2 separate regions of the Homo sapiens genome follow, and region 2 is linked to region 1. A link means that fine-mapping ties the variant in region 1 to the expression of a gene that starts in the linked region. Tissue or cell type: whole blood. Region 1 holds a variant in brackets; the other region holds the start of a gene. All regions are shown on one strand. Distances are between the middles of the regions.

Region 1 (5,220 bases):
CCTGCTCCAACCCTCCCACGCTCACCAGCCAGTCTTTCTCCACCCACCCCTCCTTCATCTCACATTGCTCTGGCCACCCCGGCCTTCCCGCCTTCCCTGAAGATACCAAAGTCTTTCTCTTCGTGGGGCCTGTGCTGTCATTTTTTTGCCTGAAATGCTCTTCCTTTAGATTTTAACACAGCTGTCTTCCTCATGATCAATATTGCCTCGAGTCCCAAATGTGACCTCCTCTGAGGGGCCATCCCTGCCCCCACTAACGGAAGCAGCGCCTGAGTCATAGCCCCATATTTTATGTATTTTTTATCCCTTACTCCTGCCTGATTTTTAAAAATTTGTTTAGGAGCTTAACAGCACTCTCCACACTAGAATATAACTTCCTTTTGAGCATAGAAGGTATTCTTCTTGCTCACCACTGATTCTCCAGAGCTTTGAATTATGGGTCTTCAAAAATATTTCATGATGAATTAACTGACAGCTGATGATCCCGGCCTGCTTCATTAACTCTTTACACAGGCTCGTCAGTATAGCACACAATTTTGTCATCCAGAAGAAAGAAGAAAGTTATATTTTGTTTGTTTGTTTGTTTGTTTGTTTTATGAGAGGGTCTCACTCTGTCTCCAAGGCTGTAGTGCAGTGGTGCGATCTTGGCTCACTGCAACCTCCACATCCCGGGTTCAAGGGAGTCTTGTGCCTCAGCCTCCCGGGTAGTTAGGATTACAGGTGCATGCCACCATGCTCAGCTAATTTTTGTATTTTTAGTAGAGATGGGGTTTCACCATGTTGGCCAGGCTGGTGTCGAACTCCTGACCTCAGGTGATCCACCTGCTTTGACCTCCCAAAGTGCTGGGATTATAGGTGTGAGCCACCGCACCCGGCCTAGCAGAAAGTTTTTTCAATTACACTATCTTAGTCCTATTCTCTAGTCTTAACTGAACATAGTTCTCAAGATTCAATTCTGGCTATCATAGTAGCATTTCTTCAAAACATGAAGAAATGTCTGCTCTGGGCTAGCAGAGATGGAAGGAATGAAGGAGTGTATGTATGTGTGATCAGTATGTATTTGTATGTGCTTGCGTGTGTATTGAGGGGCTGGGATTTCATTTTATAGTTGAGTGTGGTAAATGATTTTAAGCTGCCTTACCTAGAATTCAGAGTGTAACTTAGTGTAAATAAAGCACCAGGTGGCAGCAGGGGAATATTGCTACACATTTTTTTTTTTTTAAACACTTAAGGTATTTTCCCAGTGGATTAGCTGCTATACAAAATGGACAATTAGACACAGGCCTGCACAAAGAGCTTGCAATCTATAGATGGATCAGTTGTCATTATATAAAGCTCCATATCTTCATTATCAAAAGCAGCTATGCTGAATGCTCTTCTCTGAAAGATTGTAAGCAAGCTCTGCAGAACCTGGGCAGGCCAGGGTGAGCCTTGCTCTGTGGAGATTATAACAGAAAATAAAAAATAAAGGAAATGTAGATGGGCATACCAGCTCTGAACAAGTTAAGGAATGATTATGTATTGCAAATTATTTGTTAACTTGGCTATTTATAGTTTATAGTATAGTGTCTGTCTCTAGACTGAAAGTCCTTCGAAGGCAGGCACCAATCTTTTTCTTCTTTAAATCCGGAAACACTTAGCAGGGAGCCCATCACATGAAAGGGGCTTAATAAACGTTTGTTGAACAACTGAGAAAAAAGTTAAGAAATTAAAAAGTAAAAATGAGAAGAAAAAACTGTGAACACTACTATACAGAAAGGAATTCGGAGCATGCCTTGTATCAAGTATCTGAGTTGCATGCTCTTAGTCCCAGAGTGCAGTTTTATTTATCTTTCCTTCTTTTTTCTTGAAGAAGAGGCAAGGATCCTTCCATGCCTGACTTCAGTGGAATATTGACCTCTTAGAGATTTTCAGATTAGGAAATGCAGGTAAATGAAAGAGGTTACTATCCAGAGAAAACCATTAAGACATATTCCCATTTAGCTGAACCAGAGTTGCCCACTATTTTTTTTGTAGTTAAAGATCATCAGTGTGGACCTGGAGACCACGTTCTGTGTTTTGTAATCTTCAACGTCCTAGTGTGTTTATTATCATCCAAGAGTTGAAAGACAAAAAGCAAGCATGTTATTTCTTAGGAGTTGAGCTTCTCTTTAGATGAGGTGCCTTTCATTTCTTTTTCATGCCAGCCCACCACTTCCCAGTTCCACAGAAGCATGGTCCTAGAGGAATTTCTTCCTCCTTGGGCAGGAAGGGTGAAGGGTGAGGAGGACTAAGGGGGGGCCCCTAGAGGAAACAGGAGAGGCAAGCAGGGAGAAAGCACAAGGCTGGAGACAACTCTGGTACGGGGGACAGGGCACTGTGAAAAAGGAACTTGGGGTGTCTTGTGGCAGATCACACTCCCTACACCTGCAAGTGGAGGTTAGAGTTCAGATTAGATTAGCATTAGCTTAGATTTTATCC[C/T]GAACTATAGCTTAAATTCTAAGGAGAAAATCACAGTATATATCTTCTCCAGCCCCAAATCCAGAATCCTCTATCAGTCCAGGGAGTCTGAACTTGAATTCCCTTTAATGAGAGGAAAAGCCTTTCTTCTACAATAATAGATTAAAAAGCCTTACAGCTTCAAATGGAAGAAACACACTGGTGTGAGGAATGTAAAAATATACCTGACAGTTTTCTTTCCTGTGTGTTTTGGGCCGGTGGGTGGGTGGAGAACTGTAGAGGAGAAAAGGGAGTGCTGGAGACTTCGGCTGAGCTGTTTCTCTTCATCCCTGTGCAAAAAAACAGAGGCTGCCAATCCACACTCTCTGCAAAGATCATTATGGACATTTCAGCAGCTCCTCATCTCTATTTTCCCATTATTGGTTCCACTTTTATAATAATTTCTGAAAATAATATAAAAATTTTCTGGGTTATAGATAATTATCTTAAAAACTGAATATGGTCACCCAGTTTTAGTGCCTGAGTTTGCGTCTATTATTATATTTCTGCCAAGTGAAGTCTAAATAATATCCTAGAGTGTCCTGTGAATGAAGGTTTTGCACTAGGTCAAGAAAGTAAAAGCGCTGGGAGAACGACTATCACAACCACGTGACAGAAGAATAGAAATGTCAGACTTTAAAGAATCTGGCCGGGTGCGATGGCTCACGCTTGTAATCCCAGTACTTTGGGAGGCCAAGGCGGGTGGATCAAGAGGTCAGGAGTTTGAGACCACCCTGGCCAACACAGTGAAACCCCATCTCTAGTAAAAATACAAAAATTAGCTGGGTGTGGTGGCAGGCACCTGTAATCCCAGCTACACAAGAGGCTGAGGCAGGAGAATCGCTTGAACCTGGGAGGTGGAGGTTGCAGTGAGCCAAGATGGCTCCACTGCACTCCAGCCTGGGCAACAGAGACCCCGTCTCAAAAAAAAAAAAAAAAAAAGAATCTGTGCATATAGTGAGTACATTCATATGGTATCAATATTTTAAATGTTTTACTTGTATTCTTTGTTCATACCAACTTGATACAGTTCAACAGAAGAAAATAAATATACAATAATTTTTTTGTTCAAAAAGTTTTTTAAAATTATAGTATTTTATTTGGAAGTGAATCCTTAATTGATTGACCTATCCAAAAATAAATTTGTGGTTATGAGTTTCTTTTTAAAAAACTGAAATGATCAGCAATCATATTATTGATTCAAATGCAAGTGTATCATGTACAAAATAAAAAAGAACCGTTAATAATAATATGTTATGTCATTATCAATAAACTCTGCATTGGTGATTTTGTTTAAACAAAGCAATATTACATATCACATTAACTTAATGTGGTCGATTTGAAGTTCATTTGTTTTACTTATATTTATTTTATAAATTGATTTGGTTTTATAGTTATATAGTTGCTTATATAAGAACTATAAGCATAAAGATTGGCGTTAACACCTAGTTTTATGATTGTGCATATTTATGCAACTTTATAATACATGTAATATAAGCCAACATTTTATATGTCATGTGTTAGTTAAGTTTAAGAGACGTTTTTCTGAATGAGTGTTTCCCAAAGATTATTCTGTGGAATGCTAGTTCCAGGAAATGAGCAGCAACAACAACAAAATGTTTTGTTAACAAATACATTTAGGAAATGCACTACAGCTACCTTTTTGGGAATTGATAGTATATGTTAGCTATTTCAACATGAGAAAACTGCAATTTTGACTACAGTTTTTCAAAATTATTTGCTTGTGTTAAACCGTCTTTAAGTGAAACAATCGTTAGAATCTTACAGTGTTCTACAAAACGCAGTAAAGGAAAATTGTTCTAGACTAGAAAAAAGCAGATTATCCACTTTTCTCTGCAGAAAAAAGCAAGGTAACAAAGTCAGACACTTTAACAAGAATGTGGCTCCAGGGGGTGAAAGTATTGAAAAATAGACTTTTTTTTCCTTCTGCAAATGCAAATGATACTGATAAGGAAGGAAAGGTTGGAGGGTGTATTGAAAAGGTTGAGACCGGCTGCACAGAATGCTGTCTGCTCTATAGTCAAACATGAAGAGTGCCGTTTGTAGGAGAGATGGAACCATAGACAAGGATGATTTTTTCAGTGTGGCCCAATGGGTAAGTTTTGGTGAAAGTTACCACAGGGCAAATTTCACTATGAAAGAAGGAAGACCATTCCAGTTATTTGAGATGTCCAAAGATGAAATGACTGCTTTGGGACAGAATATGTGCCCTACCCTAAGCAGCTCAAACAAAGGCCGAATGAGGATGTAGATGAAATTCAGGTTATCAAGTAAGTGGTTGGACTCGATGATTTTTAACCTTTAGTTCTATGAGTCCACTTATTTGTGATCAAAACAGAGATATGTACACAAGATAACAATGTACTCTACAGGACAATAATTAACACTCATTAAGTGATATGTACCAGGCATGTTACCTGTACTAAGATGTTTAATCCTCACATCCTCCAACAACCCGACGGAGAAAGGCACTGATAGCCCCATTTTACAGATGAATAACTGCAGTGGAGAAGCACAATCATGCTTATTCCTCCCATTTTCAATTAATGACCACAAACCTCAAGTGGGCCTAACGCTGCCCGCCTATCATACTATATCTCTCTTCCATTTACTTTCTCACTCTCCAAGATGATTGTATACTCTCTCTCGTCTCCTCAAATCTCCAACACCTCCCCATCCTCACTTTCAGCTGATCCTAGTGCTTCCAACATTGAAGAGAAA
Region 2 (5,220 bases), 250 kb after region 1:
CCAGTCACGTGCCTGGCTAAAGCCAAGTCACGTTTACAACCAAACTACAGTGGGGTCTGGGAAAGGTAGTCTTTAGCTTTTTAACCTCCAGATGTAGATTCTTTTGCCCTTCTGTCAGGGAGATGACAAGTAGTGAAAAAGCAAGCAAAACAGCAAGAAGTAATAGGTCTGCATATTCCAGAAACAAAAAGGTCCTAAGGTAACTTCATGATCCAAAGATGAATATCCAAATGTCCATCAATATTGGTAACCAAATAAACATTAAATTAAACAATACGATAGCATATTAACTTCTCAAATTAGAAAATACCAGTGTTGCTGAGAGTATAGAGAAATAAGCAAAAATTTTGCATACTCTTTATTCTAGAAATGGTACCTTTCAGGAATTAAACGTCCATACCTATAATAAATATTTGGTTACAAGGATATTTATGTTACTTACAATAGCAAAAAAAAGAACCTAAATACCAAGAAGAGGGACTGTCTAAACTATGGTACATCCATATACTGAAAAACTGTAACCATTAAGAATGATGTTGAAGAAGACTGAATGATAAGGAAAAAAAGTTATGATTTCCCAAAAAAATGTACATGAAACTCCATTTTTCACCTTCCCCCTCCACCAGAAAGTAAAAGAAATTATACAGGATAGAGAACATGTTAACAGTAAGGAGATTATGGAGATTAATATTTATTTTCTTTATGCATAGGCTATTTCCCTGAATGTTTTACTGAAAATACGTACTACTTCTGTAACCAAACGAAAAAAAAGTAGTAAGAATTTTTTTAACCAACTCATGAAGAATAGTTTCTCATAACACTAGTTTATTCTGGTAAACAGAAATAGAAATTACAAGTTATAATATTCAGTAGCCATTCCTTTGACTCTGCTTTTCTATTTTCCTTCTCCACTACCAATTTATCCAAGTTGCCACATTTGCCTACTTAATTCTGAATTTACTCACTCCATTCCATCCACTCAAACTTGCAACCTCTTGTCTCCTCATTTTCACTAAAACACTTGCCCATATGTACGTTTCTCCTGGCATATTATCCACAGCTAAGTATCAACTGGCACACTTTTCTGAGCCCTCTCTCACACAAGTTCTTAAAGAACCATTCCCAACACTTGCAAGGAAATAGGCAAACCCACAAACATAAACTTTCGTTAAGATAAAGTCAAACATAAAAAGACCAGTCTACAAGCTCATACTTAAAACTGGATACATACTCCTTACAGCCACACATTCTTACAGACTCAGGGAATCAAGGAGAGAGGTCTTTCTCTTTCATGTCAGCGTCCTCTCCATTCAACTTCATCTTTCAGTCTTCTAAGCTGAACACAGAATTGCACCTTTTGTTTCATTCCTAGAATGACAAACCTTACTCTTTCGTGGTACTGAGCACTTAAATAAATTAGTTTATACTTTTAAATGCACTCTCACTAGTCTAAAACTCTAGGTAGGAAGGGTCCCTATTTGTTTTGCTCATCTTTGTAGCCAATGCCTAAGAATACGCTCCCAGTAGCATTCAATAAGTAATGAATAAACGACTGTATTATTACTGATGCATGATTCTGTCAATACAGTCAAAGCACACACTACGTTCCCAACTTATAAGTAAGGAAAACGAGGCTGGGGCGGTTCAGCGGCGAGTCAGCGCAGACCCAGGAGGAGAGCGGGGTCTCGGAGCTGCAGGAAGTACGGTCAGCCATGCAGCGGCAGGGCTGGGGGGCATGCAAGGTTCGCGCTTTGCAGACTCTCCGTAAGGGCTAGTGTCAATAAATCGAGTTACGTGCGGTGGTGAGCGGACAAGCTAAGTTGGCATATAGTACGTGGTTCAGTCAGTATTTATGAATGACTCAAGACACAAAAATAGCTTCATAAACAGTGCTTTGCTTGAGTTTGTCCGCTCACTACCGCACGTAACTCGATCCGGAGAATTAATCCGTGGCGAATTCTCCAATAACTGCGCGCGCACAGTAAACGGAGAAGCTGAAGCTGGGAGATGAGTTGATCGTTTTACAGAAGCAACCAATAAACTCCCCAGGCCGGGACCCAAACCCACCGGAACAGCAACTGGAAACCTACATCCTTGGTGCACCAGGCCGTCCAACTCTTCAGCGGAGGCCTGCAGGTGGCGCTGATCTCACCACGTTTCCCCTCCACAGGCCAGGGGCCAGGCCTGGCTACCGGGCCCGCGACCTCATTCATCTGGCGTCCGCCGGCCCCGCGCGCCGCGCAGGCGGGGGCCGTGGCCACCAAGCCCGGGCGCAGTTTCTCTCCGCCCACGGCAGGAGCGAAGGAAGGCCCTGGCGCGAGCGGGTAAACTGCCCACCGGGCGGCCCACCCGCTGCGCCCCCGGCCCGCAAGAGGCAGTCCCAATAGGTTGGCCCGCCTGGCCGAAGTCCGCCCGGAGCCCGCTCACCTGTCAGCCCCCACTGCCGTAAGTCCTGCTCCTGCACCCGCGCCGCCTCGGCTCGGCCCTCAGTATGAAGCCGCAGTAAGAAGCCAGGGGCTTGGCCCCCGCGGCTAGTAGCGCCCGCGCGCTCCATCGGGCCGGTAGAGGCCCCGCCCCGCGCGGCCAAGCGCGCACCTCCCTCCCAACTTCCCAACGCGCGGGGGCGCGCGACTGCGCGCTGGGGCCCACCTACGAGCGAGGCGCCGCCAGAGGGCGCGTCCTGCCAAGATATCCGGAGCGGAGCTGGTGCAGTCACCCTTCCGGACAGGCAGTTCTTGCAGTGCGGAGCGTGGAAGGGCTGCCCAGTTCTCACCAGTCGTGCTTCTGAAGCGCTAGGCGTCTGATCACGCACAGGACGTCTGATTGCCTGAACTGCCCGTCAAGGAGGTGGCATGTGTTCATCATTCATTTATTATTTAATCAACATCGACTATCATGTGTCAGACACTCCGCTGGGCCCTGGGGGTTCTAGAAGTAAGACTTGTTCCGTGCCCTCCAGTGATTCACGATAAGATCAAACTGTTCTTGTTCGGTTTACCTAGTGATAAATTGATTTAGTCCCTGAAATCCCTTTCTTACTGCCTGTGACCTGTAGGCCAAAATTGGGAACCTCTGAATAGTAGTAAATTAAAATCACCAAAGACGTCATTGTGGCAGTGGGTATCTCAAGTGCATTATGGGGAGCAGATTGAGGCAATGTGTTCAGTTAGGGGTCACCGTGACTCAGCATCAGCTTTGAGTGGATTTATGATGTAGTATACCACTAATATAAATATGATAATAACAAAATAGCTGCATTTATTGATGAAGTTCTGGGTGGTGTCCTAAGGGCTTTAAGTATATTTTCTTATTTAACCTTCACAATAACCAATAATTAGGTGTTATAATTGTCCCCACATTGTAAATGAAGATATTGGGACTTGTAATGGTAATTGGCAGTACTGGAACAGGAACGATATTATTCTCTGGCTAATGTCATTAGAATAGTATTCTCATTTAGGTTAATCTTGGTGCTTCCTTCTTCAGTAAACTCATGTTAAATTTGTACCCTCCATTCTCATCTTCCTCTAAAATAAAAGGGAGAAATTTGTTCTGAGCTAGAAAAGGGATGACTTCAGATTGGTTTATTCATAAAAACTCAAGCAAAGCACTGTTTTATGAAGCTATTTTTGTGTCTTGAGTCATTCATAAATACTGACTTTCATGCGCGTCCGTGTGAAGAGACCACCAAACAGGCTTTGTGTGAGCAATAAAGCTGTTTATTTCACCTGGGTGCAGGTGGGCTGAGTCCGAAAAGAGTCAGCGAAGGGAGATAGGGGTGGGGTCGTTTTATAAGATTTGGGTAGGTAAAGGAAAATTACAGTCAAAGGGGGTTTGTTCTGTGGCGGGCAGGAGTGAGAGGTCACAAGGTGCTCGGTAGGGGAGCTTTTTGAGCCAGGATGAACCAGGAAAAGGACTTTCACAAGGTAATGTCATTACTTAAGGCAAAGACGGGCCATTTAAACTTCTTTTGTGGTGGAATGTCATCAGTTAAGGCAGGAACCAGCCATCTGGATGTGTACGTGCAGGTCACAGGGGATATGATGGCTTAGCTTGGGCTCAGAGGCCTGACACTGACTGAATTACATACTATGTGCCAAGCACTCTATGGTACTGAAGATAGAGGCCACTTATCTCCTGGATCTTACATTTTAAAAGGAGGAGACAAGCAATAAATAAAAATCAGGTAGTGAAGGGGTGGCCTGCCCCTCCACACTTGTGGGTATTTCTCGTCGGGTGGAATGAGAGACTTAAGAAAAAAAAGAGACACAGAGACAAAGTATAGAGAAAGAAAAGTGGGCCCAGGGAACCGGCGCTCAGCATACAGAGGACCTGCGCTGGCACCAGCCTCAGTTCCCTTAGTATTTATTGATCATTATCGGGCATTTCTCAGAGAGTGGGATGTGGCAGGACAATAGGGTAATAGTGGAGAGACGGTCAGCATGAAAACATGTGAACAAATGTCTCTGCATCATAAACAAGGTAAAGAAAAAAGTCCTGTGCTTTTGATGTGCATACACATAAACATCTCAATGCCTTAAAGAGCAGTATTGCTGCCCACATGTCCCACCTCCAGGCCTAAGGTGGTTTTCTCCTATCTCAGTCAATGGAATATACAATCGGGTTTTACACCGAGACATTCCATTGCCCAGGGATGAGCAGGAGACAGATGCCTTCCTCTTATCTCAACTGCAAAGAGGCCTTCCTTTCTCTTTTACTAATCCTCCTCAGCACAGACCCTTTATGGGTGTCAGGCTGGGGGACGGTCAGGTCTTTCCCTTCCCACAAGGCCATATTTCAGGCTATCACATGGGGAGAAACCTTGGACAATAACTGGCTTTCCTAGGCAGAGGTCCCTGCGGCCTTCCGCAGTGTATTGTGTCTCTGGGTACTTGAGATTAGGGAGTGGACTCTTAACAAGCATGCTGCCTTCAAGCATTTGTTTAACAAAGCACATCCTGCACAGCCCTGAATCCATTTAACCTTGAGTGGACACAGCCCATGTTTCAGGGAGCACAGGGTTGGGGGTAGGGTTACAGATTAACAGCATCTCAAGGCAGAAGAATTTTTCTTAGAACAGACCAAAATGGAGTCTCTTATTTCTACTTCTTTCTACACAGACACAGTAGCAGTCTGAGCTCTCTTTCTTTTCCCCACAAGGTAGGATTAATGCTAAGACAAAAGTAAAACACAATCGCATAATGGGGCAATAGTAATTTT

Evidence for each region. PIP is the estimated chance that this variant, and not a neighbour inherited with it, causes the effect.
Region 2: it holds the start of CHD1L, and the variant in region 1 is fine-mapped to the expression of CHD1L in whole blood (TOPMed, PIP 0.92).

Annotation. Positions count from the first base shown.
Region 1 is chr1:147,488,364-147,493,583 of GRCh38, reverse strand. All of the region lies in intron 3 of LINC00624 (long intergenic non-protein coding RNA 624), which reads left to right. Among named protein-coding and RNA genes, the nearest start is that of LINC00624, 27 kb to the left of the region's middle. The variant C/T (reference allele first, on the strand shown) is at 2,461.
Region 2 is chr1:147,240,038-147,245,257 of GRCh38, reverse strand. It overlaps CHD1L (chromodomain helicase DNA binding protein 1 like), which reads right to left and starts at 2,574. Exons shown (of 23, transcript NM_004284.6): 1 at 2,428-2,574. The coding sequence starts at 2,554. RefSeq lists a silencer at 2,123-2,742.